Homo sapiens: one gene and its partner. The protein of the gene in region 1 interacts with the protein of each later gene in a pairwise test. Each region holds a gene or a part of one and is shown in the gene's direction. Other genes may lie near its edges. The genes, in order: FAM114A2 and GAD2.

Region 1 (3,812 bases):
GAACAGGATCTCATGTTCTTGATGTAGCAGCAAGAGATGCTGAGAGAGTGCGTTTTGGGCATTATCAGAAACCTCAAGATCAGGATATGGGTTTAGCAGCCAAGGAAAAAGGGGGTTAGAAGTGGCTTTGAATATGTTAACAGCAGCATCTTCATGACACTGAAAGATATCTACCACAGAGGGCCATGTTTTAAGAAGGGCTTTGAAAAACTGGGTGAATCCAGAAAAGAGTCAGCTAGATAGTGTGAATCAAAAAGTGTCTGAGACAGGTCTCAATCAAGTTAGAGGTTTATTTTGCTAAGTTTGAGGATGCACCTGGGAAAAAGGAACACAAACCACAGAAACAATCTACCTTCCATACTTTTTTTGAAGAGGGTCTGGTGACTTCAATATTTAAAGGAAGAAGAGTGGGCTCTAGGGGAAAGAGGAAGTAAAGAAAGGGGAGGGTAGATAAGAGGGGCAAGTGGTTGCCTTCTTTTGAATCTTTGATCAGTGTTCACTGAATCCACATTTTACGTGTAAAAGGAAAGAGCAGAGGTAGAGTCAATTATGTATTTGTCTTATGCTCAGTAAATTGGCAGTTTACATGAAATAAAGTAAACGTAGAGTAGCTACCTGTGGAAACATCTGGCCTTCTGTCTGGCCTTTCTGCTTAGGAACAAAAGGAAAGACAGTTTTTGTGTAACTTAGCTTTCAGCTTAACTGTTCCCTTTGGCATAGTAAATTTGGGGTCCTGAGTTTTATTTTCTTTCACAATAGTGAAATGTCTAGAATTAAAGTCTTACAAGAGAAAGTCTTATAAGAGATTGAATCTGGTAATCTGGAGAAGGGAGATTGGGAGAATATCCTGGTCTTTTTCTGAAGACTAGCATGGAGAAGAGGATTAGGTTTATTATTCATGGTTTATGGGGAGAACTAGTAACTAGTACCACTCAGTGGAAGTTATATAGAGTTAAGTTTTAGTTTAATAAAGAGTTTAACAGGGAGAACTTTCCAAAATTACAATGGACTGCCTTTTGATACTAAACCCCTTCTATCTTCTAAAGTTCCTGAGGAAGGAGGTTAATTCCTCTGCCAAGGATGTGTCTTGTAGTCAACATGTATATTTTCAGAATTTTGAGATAAGCATAGGCCATTGATGGAAATCATTGATCATCTATTAGGGATTTTGTTTTCTTCCTTTAAAGGGGGCTATCTTCTGCTTTCCTTTTGTCGGCGGGCAGTTAAGGTATTTGCAACTTAAATTGATGCTTTAAGGCTTTTTTTTTTTTTTTTGGAGAGGGAGTCTCACTCTGTCGCCCAGGCTGAAGTACAGTGGTGCGATCTCAGCTCACTGCAGCCTCTGCCTCTTGGGTTCAAGTTCTTCTCCTGCCTCAGCCTCCCAAATAGCTGGGATTGCAAGCATGGGCCACCATGCCTGGCTAATTTTTGTACTTTTAATAGAGGTGAGGTTTTGCTGTGTTGGCCAGGCTGGTCTCAAACTCCTGACCTCAAGTGATCCTCTTGCCTCGGCCTCCCAAAGTGCTGGGATTACAGGTATAAGCTGCTGTGTCTGGCCAAGACTTTTTGTAAAGCTTGTTTAGGGTGAGTCTATAGTGGCCTTTACTCTAACTAAGTACTGTTTATCTCTGCTGCTAAGGCTTGACTCTTCCGAAGTCTCCACCTTAATTCCCAGGTGTTTAATATAAAGTCTCTGCTTTTGTGGTTGGAGGTCAAATGTCTCTCAGCCTAGCGTGAGCTCTGGGGATTGCTTAGCTTAGAGCTCCATGGTAGTTCTTTGTACAGACTTATGGAGCCTCCCAGTGCCTCAGCAGTGCAGTATTTAAGCAAAAACACCTAAAGGTGTCTTAGGGCATGCCTATGCGGATTCTTAGAACTTTTTAGCTATGTAGCTTCCTCCTCTACGGTTTTCTGACCTGCAAATTCCGATTGCTTCAGCATTCCCAGATTCCAGTCTCCGTTTCTTCCACTCAAACTGATTGCCATGCCCTACTTGGGTTTCTCCTCCCTCTGTCATGGCCTGGAAAGCTCCTCTATACAGAAAGCCAAGCCAATTGTAAGGTTTACTTTGTTGTTCTTCTTGTGTGAACCGAAGTCTTGTACTGCCTATTGTCCTATGTCTGAAGACAGTTGCTTCTTATATATTGTCCAGTTTTTCAGTTGTTGTGGCAGGAGGTCATATCTAATACCAGTTAATCCATCATGCTAGAAGTGGAAGTCCTCTCTATAATATTTGATAATACTGAAATTATTTGGTATAATGGTTGTTCTCCTATGTGAAATTTTTAAGTTAATGGATTTTTGTTTTGAAACATACCTATCTTTGTAATGTATGTCTGTTTGATTTCTACTAATCATAATTTTCTAGGATAAAATTTAAAATAGACTGGATTTTTAAAAATCAGGTTTATCAAATTATAATTTACACACAGTAAAATTTATTCTTTTTAGGTGTACAGTTTTACATGTTTTGATCAGTATATATACTTCTGTTTATACTGTGTAATCATAGTACACTGTGATTATACAGATATAGAAAACATTCTATATAGAATGATCAATACAGATATATAGAATGTTTCCTATATCTGTATTGATAATTGAGACATAAGAAAATTTTTATTACCCCAAAAAGGTTCTCTCACGTCCTTTTGTAGTCACTGTTCTCCTTACTCTCAGTTCTTAGCAATTACTGATCTGTTTTCTGACCTTACAGTTTGACCTTGTCCAGAAGATTATATAATTGGAATCATACAACATATAGGCTGTTGTATATATCAGCAGTTTGTTTACAAAACTGGATTTTATTTTCGAAATGAAAAGAAAATGAAAACTGCCTATCTTAGCTTTCATTTTAAAATAAGCAAATGGTTTAAAATGATAAAAAGGGCTAAGGCCTAGTATGTAGTAAGCAGGGTCTAGTTTTAAAAAATTCACATAGATGCTAATAAAGCCTGAGAGTTAAGGGACCTTCCCTTCATGTTTACACATCCCCTCCCTCTTGTAGGAGAGACAAATGCCAAAGAGAATGAAAACTCCTCCCCAGTGGCTGGGGCATTTGGTGTATTCTCTACCATCTCTACTGCTGTTCAGAGCACAGTAAGTAAAAAAGTGCAAGGTGGTCTGTTCCTTTCCATTATTATAATGGGTTTGCATATCTTTCTCTCTCTTTTCTTTGAACAGCCATGTGGACTGATTACTTTTAAAGGAGTCCAAGCCACTGAAGATCGGTCACTTTGGTCTTATGGGTGGAGTGAATGCTACTTGAAAACTTTCATTAAAGCAATAAGGAAGAAAGTAGGAAATAAAGGAGTAGCAATAAATAAGGGAGTAGGAGTTACAGAGAGGCAATATACGTATTATTTTATGGATTAGGAATTCTTAATTTGGTGGCCCTAAAAAATGTCTACTTTACAAAAATATTTTTCTCATAGTTGCATCTTTTAGGCAAAGGGGAAATGTGATCTTTATGACAGATATTTGCAAAACTATGTATGATTAAAAACATTTGTAAGAGGATTATCTAGGAAGCTAAATATCTTTGCTACATGAGGATAGATAGCTAGTTTTTTTTAAATTTTAACTTTTTATTGAAATATACATACAGAAGAATGTAACAAGTGTTGTTTGAATTTTCAGTGTGAAACACCCAGAGTAAGAAACAGTATTACCGTAATCAGATCTCCCCACCATCTTGTGTCCTCTCCCAGTTTTCTGTGTCTTCTGCTCTCCCCCTCTCCTGCACCAAGATAACCATAATCCTGACTTCCACCATCATAGGTTAATTTTGCCTGCATTTCAGCTTTACATAA
Region 2 (4,399 bases), on another chromosome or scaffold:
CTTTATTAGAAAAAGAGAAACCGCCTCCTAATACGCCTCAGAGAGAACCAATCTCGCGCTTCCGGGTCACCCGCTACCGCGAAGATTCTCTGGGGGCGAGGGGGGGCATTGGTTTGAAGCCCCTTAAAACGAGGGCCCTGCAGGCGATGCCTTCTTTCCTACTCGGATTTGTAAAGCCGAGATTGCTTAGTTGGAAACCCTGTTCTCCCCTCCCAGGCGCACACAGATCCCCCTTACACGCAAGCAGCGGGCGCTTCCACGCCTCCGCGGGCCAAGGTCACCAAATGCCCTGATTCCATCCCCCACCCGCCATCAATCCTGCCGACTCTGGCCGCTCTGCCTCATTCTCTTCCAAGAAGTTTCCATTCGTTTTATTTTTTTTTCCCCAGCCCGAGGTCCTCAGTAGACTCCAGCGTGGATTTTAATTGCCTCAATCAGCAGTCATTCTCCCCAGCCGTCACTCAGAGCCTGGACGGTGGGTCCCGCGATCTAGCCCTTGGCTACGCAGGAACGGTGCGCCCCCGGGTACGGCGCGGTTCAGCAGGCAGGCGTCAGGTTCTACCAAGGCGCTGAAATGAGCCCATCAGCGGGTAGGAGCCCTTCCCCCGCCGTCCCCTCCCCAGGCTCGTGAACGGCGCCTGATGCCCGCCCGGGGCGCGAGCTCTCGAGGTCGCAGTGACCTCAGCACCTGCTTGGAGGAAAACGGCGCGGGAACCCCGCTTCCTTCCCCTCAGCTGGAGCCAGACCTCAAACAAAACCCCAATCGATGCACACAGAAAACTCCTCTGGGCCACGCTTCCCGCCTCGCCGAGGTCTCCCCAGTCTGCCCCTCGCTGACGCTGGCGCGCAGCGGCTGTGGCAGCACCCGGGACAGCGGCCGCCCGCACTTCCCGCCTCTGGCTCGCCCGAGGACGCGCTGGCACGCCTCCCACCCCCTCACTCTGACTCCAGCTGGCGTGCATGGTCTGCCTCGCATCCTCACGACTCAGCTCCCTCCCTCTCTCGTGTTTTTTTCCTCCGCCGCCCCCTCATTCATCCCCACTGGGCTCCCTTTCCCTCAAATGCTCTGGGGCTCTCCGCGCTTTCCTGAGTCCGGGCTCCGAGGACCCTTAGGTAGTCCCGGTCTCTTTTAAAGCTCCCCGGCTTCCAAAGGGTTGCCACGTCCCTAAACCCTGTCTCCAGCTCGCATACACACACGCACAGACACGCACGTTTTCTGTTCCTGCGTGACACCCGCCCTCGCCGCTCGGCCCCGCCGGTCCCCGCGCGGTGCCCTCCTCCCGCCACACGGGCACGCACGCGCGCGCAGGGCCAAGCCCGAGGCAGCTCGCCCGCAGCTCGCACTCGCAGGCGACCTGCTCCAGTCTCCAAAGCCGATGGCATCTCCGGGCTCTGGCTTTTGGTCTTTCGGGTCGGAAGATGGCTCTGGGGATTCCGAGAATCCCGGCACAGGTAGGAAGGAGAACGGGGGCCTGCGGCGGGCGAGTTTTGCGGTGGTCTGGGGTTTGCGGAACTACGGAGAAGACGAAGGAGGTTTTTCCACCTGCAACAGGAAACTTCTTCGGGCGCTTCTCCCTGCTTTTGGGCTAAGTCCTTGACGGCCCAAGAGCTCAAGACCTCTACAGCCTCTTGTACCCTGGGAAGACGCCCAAATAGTCTCAGGCCCGTTCCACAGAAGGTTGGAAGAGCCCCCCAAAGACCGCGGTGTCTCGGGGACATGGAATTCCGTGGTCCTGGGGCGCTGCTAAGATCCGGGTGTCTGGACCCTGGGGTGGGACGGAGTGACCGTGAAGATAGAAAAAAAAAATGGGAAAGGTGAGAGATTTCTTTATCTAGAAAGACAGTCTGCGAAAAAATGGATAGCTTCAGTGTTTAGGAAAACTCGTCCAAGGTAGGCAGGGAGAGGAATTTGCCTGAGCCGATTGGCACCTGGAAGGGCAGCGGTGTGGGCTTCTCCTCGGGAAACAGATAAAGGAAATGAGGGCTGGCCCGGGCCGCCAGCCTCCCGCTTGCCTTCTGCACCTGCCGGCCTCACCGAGTCCTGAGCGGCCCCCAGGAGGAAGGCGGCCCCTCCTAGGACCCCGGACTGATTGATTTTCACATAGAACGAAATTTCACACGTCCGTCTGTTGTTCTCTTTCTGCCTCGCTGTCTGCCTGCCTATTCTTCCTTGCAGCGCGAGCCTGGTGCCAAGTGGCTCAGAAGTTCACGGGCGGCATCGGAAACAAACTGTGCGGTGAGTGCCCAGGGACCGGGGCGGCCAAGGTCGGCCCGCGGGGTCCAAGCAGTCTTCTCACCTCCGCATCCCAGTCAGCGGAGTCGGGGTTTCCTGGCTGCGGGTAGGCGGGAGCGAGGGAGCCGGGCCCGGCGGAGGATTGACGAGGCCCGCGTTCGGTGTCCTTACCCAGCCCTGCTCTACGGAGACGCCGAGAAGCCGGCGGAGAGCGGCGGGAGCCAACCCCCGCGGGCCGCCGCCCGGAAGGCCGCCTGCGCCTGCGACCAGAAGCCCTGCAGCTGCTCCAAAGTGGATGTCAACTACGCGTTTCTCCATGCAACAGGTAAAGACTCAGCGGGGAGCCCCGGGGCGCCCCTGCCCCTCTCTCTGCCCCGCCCACCGCGGCCGGTGCGGGTCCGGCGCTGAGAGCCGGACAGGGGCGTCGAGGTGGCAGCGGAGGCGGGACCTGCCAGAATCTTCAGATAAAAGCGAGAAATGCGGGACCTGCCCGCTGGGTCCAAGCCCCCGAACCTGGCCTCGGAGCTCCAAGAGGGCTCTGAGGCCGTGGCGCTCTTCCCCCAGCGCGGCCCTTGGGATGGCGGGTGGCCGACGATCCAGGCGCTCGTGCGCTCACTGAATCGATGACGGCTGGCTTCCCTAGGCCGCTGGGGCCTCGGGTGGGACTCAGTTTCCAAATACCGTGCCCGAGAATTCAGAATTGCATTTTTTTTAGGTCTTTAGATCACGAGAGTGATTTGTAGCTGCAATTGCACAAGAGAACGATTCCATTCACATGAAACCCGCGCGCCGAGTTTTACCCCCGTGCACTTACACACCGTCTCCCAAATGTACGCGCGCACACACACATGCAGACACACATGCATACGCTCTCTCTCTCTCTCTCACACACACACACACACACACACACACACACACACACTGACTTTAGAAACAGCGGGCCTTCCTATCAGACCAGAGATCCTAATGCACCTGTTCCACTTTGGTTTGCCCGAAGGCATTCGAGACAAACACTTCTGACGTGAAATATTTATGTAAACATGTAAGATGGTTTACTGAGAAACACGTTTAAGACGAACTCCTGTGAACTAGATAAACGGAGGTACACGCTCTTCAAAAAAAGAAGGCAAACAATATAAGTTATGAATTGAAATGCAGTAATTAATTTGGGGAAGAGAAGAAATCATAATTTATCTCATTCATTCCCTTCACCTTTGAAAAATGTCTCCCTTTTAAAGAAAAATGTTCTGCCTTTCCAAAAGCTTTATCTAACATGAAATCTCTCAATTCAAAGAAATGTTATTGCCTCATCAAGATCTTGCCTTGAATATTTTCAAAGTAAAATTAAAATGTGGCATTTTAATTTCATTCTTTAGACCTGCTGCCGGCGTGTGATGGAGAAAGGCCCACTTTGGCGTTTCTGCAAGATGTTATGAACATTTTACTTCAGTATGTGGTGAAAAGTTTCGATAGATCAACCAAAGTGATTGATTTCCATTATCCTAATGAGCTTCTCCAAGAATATAATTGGGAATTGGCAGACCAACCACAAAATTTGGAGGAAATTTTGATGCATTGCCAAACAACTCTAAAATATGCAATTAAAACAGGTATTGTCTCATCGAAAATAATAAAGCTCTTTTTTCGTTTACAATTTTTATTTTATTTTTTTCTATAAAATGTTTTGTTTGATGGAGTTACTGATATTTTCAAAATTGCAAAGTTATTTTCATCATGTAAAAAATAGTCATTATTAGAATGATTCTAATCCAAAGCACCTTCCACTGCTATTGTTCATGCTTCTGAAGTTGATAATGTCAGAAACATGATTTAAGTGTAAATCATCAGATTTTACGTTGCATGTATTTGGACACGGAGGTTATACCACTGGTATAGAAGCAAATATTCATCAGCAGAGACCAGCAGAAAGAACTCAAAGTGGAGAAAGAGAATATGGAAATAAAAGCTCGAAAAATGCGTGATCCAAACAAAAGCCCGAATACCAGTGCTGTGCTGGTATTTTCTTTGGCATAAAACTGATCAGAAACAGGACTCACCACCCTATTAATCATTGAGTGGGAGGGATGTTTTCACATTGTGTCAAATGGCCAACCTTTCAGATTTGAATTCAGATTTTCACTTATTTTTAAGGAAATGTGCACAACA

The links.
Region 2: the proteins of FAM114A2 (region 1) and GAD2 interact in binary tests that used the Homo sapiens proteins (3 or more experiments, as listed by UniProt).

Annotation. Positions count from the first base shown.
Region 1 is NC_000005.10:154,028,776-154,032,587, reverse strand, and holds part of FAM114A2 (protein FAM114A2), read left to right. Parts: intron 1-3,007; coding exon 3,008-3,099; intron 3,100-3,812.
Region 2 is NC_000010.11:26,215,434-26,219,832, forward strand, and holds the start of GAD2 (glutamate decarboxylase 2), read left to right. Parts: upstream 1-1,340; 5' UTR 1,341-1,376; coding exon 1,377-1,452; intron 1,453-2,176; coding exon 2,177-2,236; intron 2,237-2,408; coding exon 2,409-2,558; intron 2,559-3,609; coding exon 3,610-3,843; intron 3,844-4,399. UniProt on the Homo sapiens protein: Catalyzes the production of GABA.